Regions from separate parts of the Homo sapiens genome. Here region 1 is linked to region 2. Evidence: fine-mapped expression QTL. A gene starts in region 2. The other region holds a variant in brackets. All regions are shown on one strand. Distances are from middle to middle.

Region 1 (2,897 bases), 45 kb after region 2:
CGTATACCCCCACGAAAACTTACACACAGTGTTCAGCAGCACCGTTCATAACAGCCACAAAGCCAGCACAACCCGGATGTCCATCAGCTCACGAAGAGATACATGAAATGTGGTCTGTCCATGCAATAGAATACTGTTCAGCCGTAAAAGGGAATGAAGTGCTGAGTCACGCTACGACATGGATGCAGCTTGAAAACATGCTAAGTGAAGGAAGCCAGACACACAAAGACAAATATCGCATGACTCTCTTTACATGAAATGTCCAGAATGGGCAAACCATAGATGGAAAGTAGACATGTGGTTTCCAGGGGCGAAGGGGTAGGAATTGGGACTAACCGAAAACGGGCACAGGTCCTCTTTCTGGCATGATGGAAATATTCTGGAATTAGTAGTGATGGTCGTGCAACACGGTGAATATACTAAAAACCACTAAGATGTCGGCTTAAAGATTGTGAATTGTGTGCTCCATGAGTTCTATCTCAACCAGAAACGGGATTGGAGAAATAGCAGAGGTCACACGAACATAGCATCAAAAGTCCCACCCACATCCTCCAAGCAGACCATGTGCACAGCTCTGTCCACTTCTGGGCCAATTGTGAGTGCCCCAGTAAGCTGGGATCCCCAGAGAAGGGCGACCTGGGTGGTGAGTGTGCCAGAAGCTTATTCAGGAGGGAACAGTGTCAGGAGCCGAGCGGCTTCACTTGGAGACCAGAAGGCTGAGGCGGGTCTGAGTGCTCCCCTCTGATGTGGTTTGTTGTTGCTTTTGCATTTTGGAAGGGACTTTGCTGTCACTGGAGTACGTTCGTACCCGTGATTCCCTGAGGCCATGAGCAGCGGCTTCGTGCTGCACCTGCTCACACTCGGTGGTGGTCTGTGTGTGCCAGGCGCTGTGCAGAGTACATTACCTCCATCACCTCCTTTGACTCCCAAACACCTCAGGGACTTTTATCCCTGTTTTATAGAGAAGGAAACCAAGGCCCAAAATGGTGAAATGACCTGCTCAAGGTCACAGAGCAAGTGACCAGCAAAGACTCACTGAATCTTTTTTCTTTTTTTTTTTTTT[G/TG]AGACGGAGTCTCGCTGTGTCGCCCCAGGCCAGAGTGCAGTGGTGCGGTCTGGCTCACTGCAAGCTCCGCCTCCCGGGTTCACACCATGCTCCTGCCTCAGCCTCCCAAGCAGCTGGGACTACAGGCACCCGCCACCATGCCCGGCTAATTTTTTGTATTTTTAGTAGAGACAGGGTTTCACCGTGTTAGCCAGGATGGTCTTGATCTCCTGACCTTGTGATCCGCCCGCCTCAGCCTCCCAAAGTGCTGGGATTACAGGCGTGAGCCACCAAGCCCAGTCGACTCACTGAATCTTGTACTCCATCTGGTATGACTTGTAGAGCAACAGCCAGGTCCCATGGGCAGTGGTCACAGGGCAGCATCACGCAGACCCCTTTGAGGACTGGCCAGCGGTCTGCACTGGGCGGTAGACTCCCGTCCTTCCCTAGAGATGCACAGCAGGGGGCGGCAGGGCAGCGGCTGGGCTGGAAGGCAGGACTCAGGTTGCGGAGAGCAGAGTGAGCAGACCCCAGCGGCCAGCAGGCTTCACCACCTCTGCCTTCCCTGGGCTGGCTTGCTGGGTTTGGACGTGAGCAGTGAGCTTGCTGGTCTGGAAAGCTGACCTTACCATTCATGCGCCTCATCTCCCACCCTGAGCTTGGACTCAGGCCCAGGCCAAGAGGTTGGCTCTGTGTCTTCTGCACACGGCCAACCTGCTGGGGAATCAGGAGCCCCAGGGAAGACCTCAGCTGATGCCCAGACCAGGAAGCAGACAGGTCCTGGGAGACCCCAGGCATACCTCCTGCCGCCTGTGCCAGCAGCTCTTGACAGCTCGGAGAGTGTTCTGGATCTGGCAGAACCCAGGCCCCAAAGCTCTAAGACCCGTGTGTATTTTACCCAAAATCTAATCCATCTGGTTCTCATTTATTTACACTTAACTCATCAAATGCAATTTTGCAAGAGCCGCTAGATAGCCAAGAGGCTTTTCTGCCTAAGCCGCCCTTCTGAAAGGAGCCGGCAGGCGGTGGGGGCCTCAGCCCCCTGGGACCAGGTGGGAGCTCTCCGTGCTGGAGGTGGAGTTCGCTTCCTAAGATGGGCTGGGCACCTCTGCCTCTGTTTCTAGACCTTCCGTGGGAGCTGGGACACCGGAGCCAGTGGAGGGCCTGACACACAGTAGGCTCTTGACAGCCATGAAAACATGGGTGGGTCCAAGCAGAACACGGAGTCTCTGTTTCAAATCGGGAAATATTTGCGGGAAACACAAAGCAGCCAGAGCTGGATCCAGAAGTAATTTTTAGTTGTTATAAATAACTGTGAACCTGGACTCTTGGTCCAAAGTAGAACAAACAGCCAGCTATTAATAAAAACAAACATCAGCATCTTGGGCCAAGAAGCACACCTCCCGGGGAAACTGGTCCTGCCTGCAGAGGCCTTTCGGAAGCGGGTCAACCTATGGCCTGCTGATGTCAGCTCTGGAAATTCTTCTTGCTGGAAAACAACCATGTCAATCACAGCACAGGGGTCCCCTCCCACACATCACCCTTCAGTGGCTGGCAGCAGGTGGAGGTGGCCTGCGCCTGTGAGGACCGAGTGGAGATGGGCAAGAGTCACAGCTGAGGGCCGTCCGCCGCCACCCCGGCCTCCAGAGCTGTGCTCATGCTGGGTACTGCACAGTGAGGAGGTGGGACCTGACCCCAGAGACCCTGTGGGACCAAGGTGCCATGTCCTGTTCCAGCCAGACTCATCACAGCAGCCACTGCCCATGGAGAAGGGATTGGGAGGGAGAGGCTGGAGGCTGAGACCCAGGAGAAGTGTGCAGCCTACCCCAAAGAGGAAGCTGAGGTCCAAGCCAGG
Region 2 (2,897 bases):
GCTGGAGGGTGTGAGGGTGTGAGGCTGTGTCTGAGTGATTGCACGTGAGAGCATGTGTCTGCATGTGTGACTGTGTGTGTGTGTGTGTGTGTGTGTGTGTGTGTGTGTGTGCGTGTGTGTGTTGGGGGCAGGAAAGGGAGCTGGTGTGGAGGGGCTCAAACTGGTGCAGGCAGAGTGGACAAAAAGAGAAAAGAGTTGTCTTTGAGTTGGGCCTGGAGAGCAGGAGAAGAAAAAAGGAGCTCTTATTGGTGGTTGTCAAGGAGATGGGCCTTGGGGTTTGCTGAACTTTCGTCCCTTAAAGCGTCCTGCCTGGAACTGAGAGGGGCCATTTATTTCCAGCCGCCCGTCCCTCCCAGGCCCGGTGGGACCAGACCCGAAGCCAACCCTCGCCAGGCGTCAGGTGTAGACCCCAGGCCAGGCCAGAGCAGTTCCTGGGTCTTCGGACCGGGATGCCCGCCCTGCCCCTCCTCCTGGCCCCGCCCGGTCTGTCACAGGGGGAGGCCTCGGCCTCGCATTCCGGGCAGCGAACTTCGCCGGCCGAGGTTAGCCCCGTGCGGGGGCCTCCCGCGGGACCGACCGCCAAGCGGCATTGTCCGTCCCGGGCGCCCGCCCGGTTCCAGACGCAGGTCCTGCGGCCGCCCCGTGACAAGCACACTGACGGGCCACTGTCCTTTGACGAGTGCTAAAAAGTTCGTTTGTTTTGAACGTCAATTTTCAAGTGATCTTCACGAGGTTTCCCCTCCCGGTTCCTTCGCTGCTGCCTCGCCCGCACTCGGTCCCCAGTAGGTGCTCAAGAAACGTCCAGCAAACGGCAGCGCAGGCGAGTCTGCTCTGCGCGCTGGCGCGTTTCACTGCCCACGGATGGCGGGCGACCTCACGGGATCCCCGGTTCGCAGGATCCCCGCCCCCGAGGCTGCCTCTGGGCCGGGAGGGGTTACCCCAGAGGGGCGTCCACTCTCGACGGCGGGGGCCGGGGCGCCGCGGGCAGGGGAGGGCGCAGCCTCCAAGCAGCCCCAGCCTGGCCTAGACCCCGCGCCTAGCGAGCCGGCCGGCCAGGCCCACACCCCCCACCTGCCGCCCGCCCCAGGGGAAGGGTCCCCCCGACGACGCCCGAGCCCCCCTCTTCCTCGGAGGGCCGGAGGCCGGCGCCCATTGGCCGGCCCTGGGCGACGCCCCGCCCCTCCGACGCCACGGGCCAATGAGCGCGCGCTGTCAGCTCATCAGCCGGGCTGGCTGGGCGGCTCGGGAGCCCGAGCGGTGGCGGAGCGGCGAGCAGCGAGCAGCGCCTGCGGGAGCGGCCGGTCGGTCGGGTCCCCGCGCCCCGCACGCCCGCACGCCCAGCGGGGCCCGCATTGAGCATGGGCGCGGCGGCCGTGCGCTGGCACTTGTGCGTGCTGCTGGCCCTGGGCACACGCGGGCGGCTGGCCGGGGGCAGCGGGCTCCCAGGTAAGCCCCCGACCGAGGTGGGGGGCGGCGGGCGCGGGGGGCTCGGGCGGCCGAGGCGCGGTCCCGGAGGGCTTCTTCCCCGCGGATCCCGAGCTCGCCCCGCGCGGCCCCGCGCCCCCTGCCTCTTTGCAAAGTAACTTCTAGGGCCGGCCCGGGGCGCCCCCTCCCCGCAGCCCGGGCGGCCGGGGCTCCTGAGTCCGGCGGGGCCGCACCAGGGGTGGGTGGGCCGGGGCCCCGGGAGGGGAAGCGCGAGCGCGGGAGCGAGGAAGAAAGGCGGCGGTTCCCGGGGACCCCGCGTGCGGACCTGGGCGGGGCGGGACCCCGAGCGCAGAGGGGCGCTCCTCCTGGGAGAGGGGGCGCGGGGCGGGGCGGGCGGAGGGGGACACGCCAGGAGGTGGACGGGGAAAGGGACGGACCGAGAGACCGGGACGGGGCGGGAGGTGCGGGACAGACGGACAGAAGAGCCGGCGCCGAGGGAGCAGACAAAAGGAAGCCCGGAGAAAAGACAGATGCGGAAGGGTAGAGAGGAGGCCCGCACCGCCCGGGGAAGGAGGAGGAGGCCGGTGGATCAGGGGGAATCAAGAGGGATGGTCCCACCGATGATAAGGGAGAGAGAGAGGAGGAGACGGGGGACAGATGGACGCCGCAGAAAAACGGGGTTGGGGGGGGCGGTGAGAGGGAGACCGGGAAAGAGAGAGGGACAGAGATACCTGGAAAGCCGCAGACGAGGGACCGGGACCGTCTGACAGGACGGGGAGGAAAGACAGAGGGAAGGAAGGCAGAGGATCCGGAGGACAGACACAGGGAGGAGAGTCCGGACGCGGGACGTCGGTGGAGCAGACCCAGGAAGGGGAGGGGGAGACCCGGAGGCCACAGGCCCAGGCCCGTGGGTTTCACGGGGACCCCCCCACCCTCCCACCCGGTCCCCTCCTGCTCTCTGTCTTCAGGGGCTTCCCGAAAAGCTGGAGTCACATTCTCCCCTCCTCGTCATCAGAGGCGCTTCCTCCGGTGCTCTGCTTGGAGGGGGAGGCAGGGGGAGGGTCCTGCACGTCCTTCCCGGCTTCCTGAGGTCTGGTATGGGTGGCGTAGGGTCTATTCCTGGTGGTCCCGCGTGCCCCGAGTGAGGATGCTGGGCCTGTGAGACTCTTCCACAGCAACACCCCTCCTGGAAGCCCAGCCCTGCTGCCCCATCATCCCCCTTGTGTCTGTGGGTGTCTCTCCCAAGCTTTGGGGTCCCTCACCTCTGAGTGACTGTTCCTGGGCGTGCCTATCCCCACCTGTGTCCCTCCTCGTGTCTCTCTGTATCTGACTCTGTCTCCTCCACGACCCTCTCCGTGGAAGCCCTGTGACTGTGAAACCCCAGCAGCATGTCCCCAGCATAAGCAAACCAGAGTCAAAGGGAGCAGCCTGTGCTAGGAGGGCTGGGTCGCCCTGCAGGGGAGTCTCCAGCC

Direction of the effects. Alleles are on the strand shown, and positions count from the first base shown. SD is a standard deviation of normalised expression in the study named.
For the expression in prefrontal cortex of the gene that starts at base 1,248 in region 2, TG is the low allele of the variant in region 1 and G is the other (large effect, 1.0 SD a copy in ROSMAP).

What was found. PIP is the estimated chance that this variant, and not a neighbour inherited with it, causes the effect.
Region 1: its variant is the best candidate, but not a certain one, in a credible set for the expression of SCUBE1 in prefrontal cortex (ROSMAP, PIP 0.61).

What each region holds. Positions count from the first base shown.
Region 1 is chr22:43,297,218-43,300,114 of GRCh38, reverse strand. All of the region lies in intron 3 of SCUBE1 (signal peptide, CUB domain and EGF like domain containing 1), which reads left to right. Among named protein-coding and RNA genes, the nearest start is that of SCUBE1-AS1, 23 kb to the right of the region's middle. The variant G/TG (reference allele first, on the strand shown) is at 1,064.
Region 2 is chr22:43,341,723-43,344,619 of GRCh38, reverse strand. SCUBE1 (signal peptide, CUB domain and EGF like domain containing 1) reads left to right here and starts at 1,248. Exons shown (of 22, transcript NM_173050.5): 1 at 1,248-1,446. The coding sequence starts at 1,359.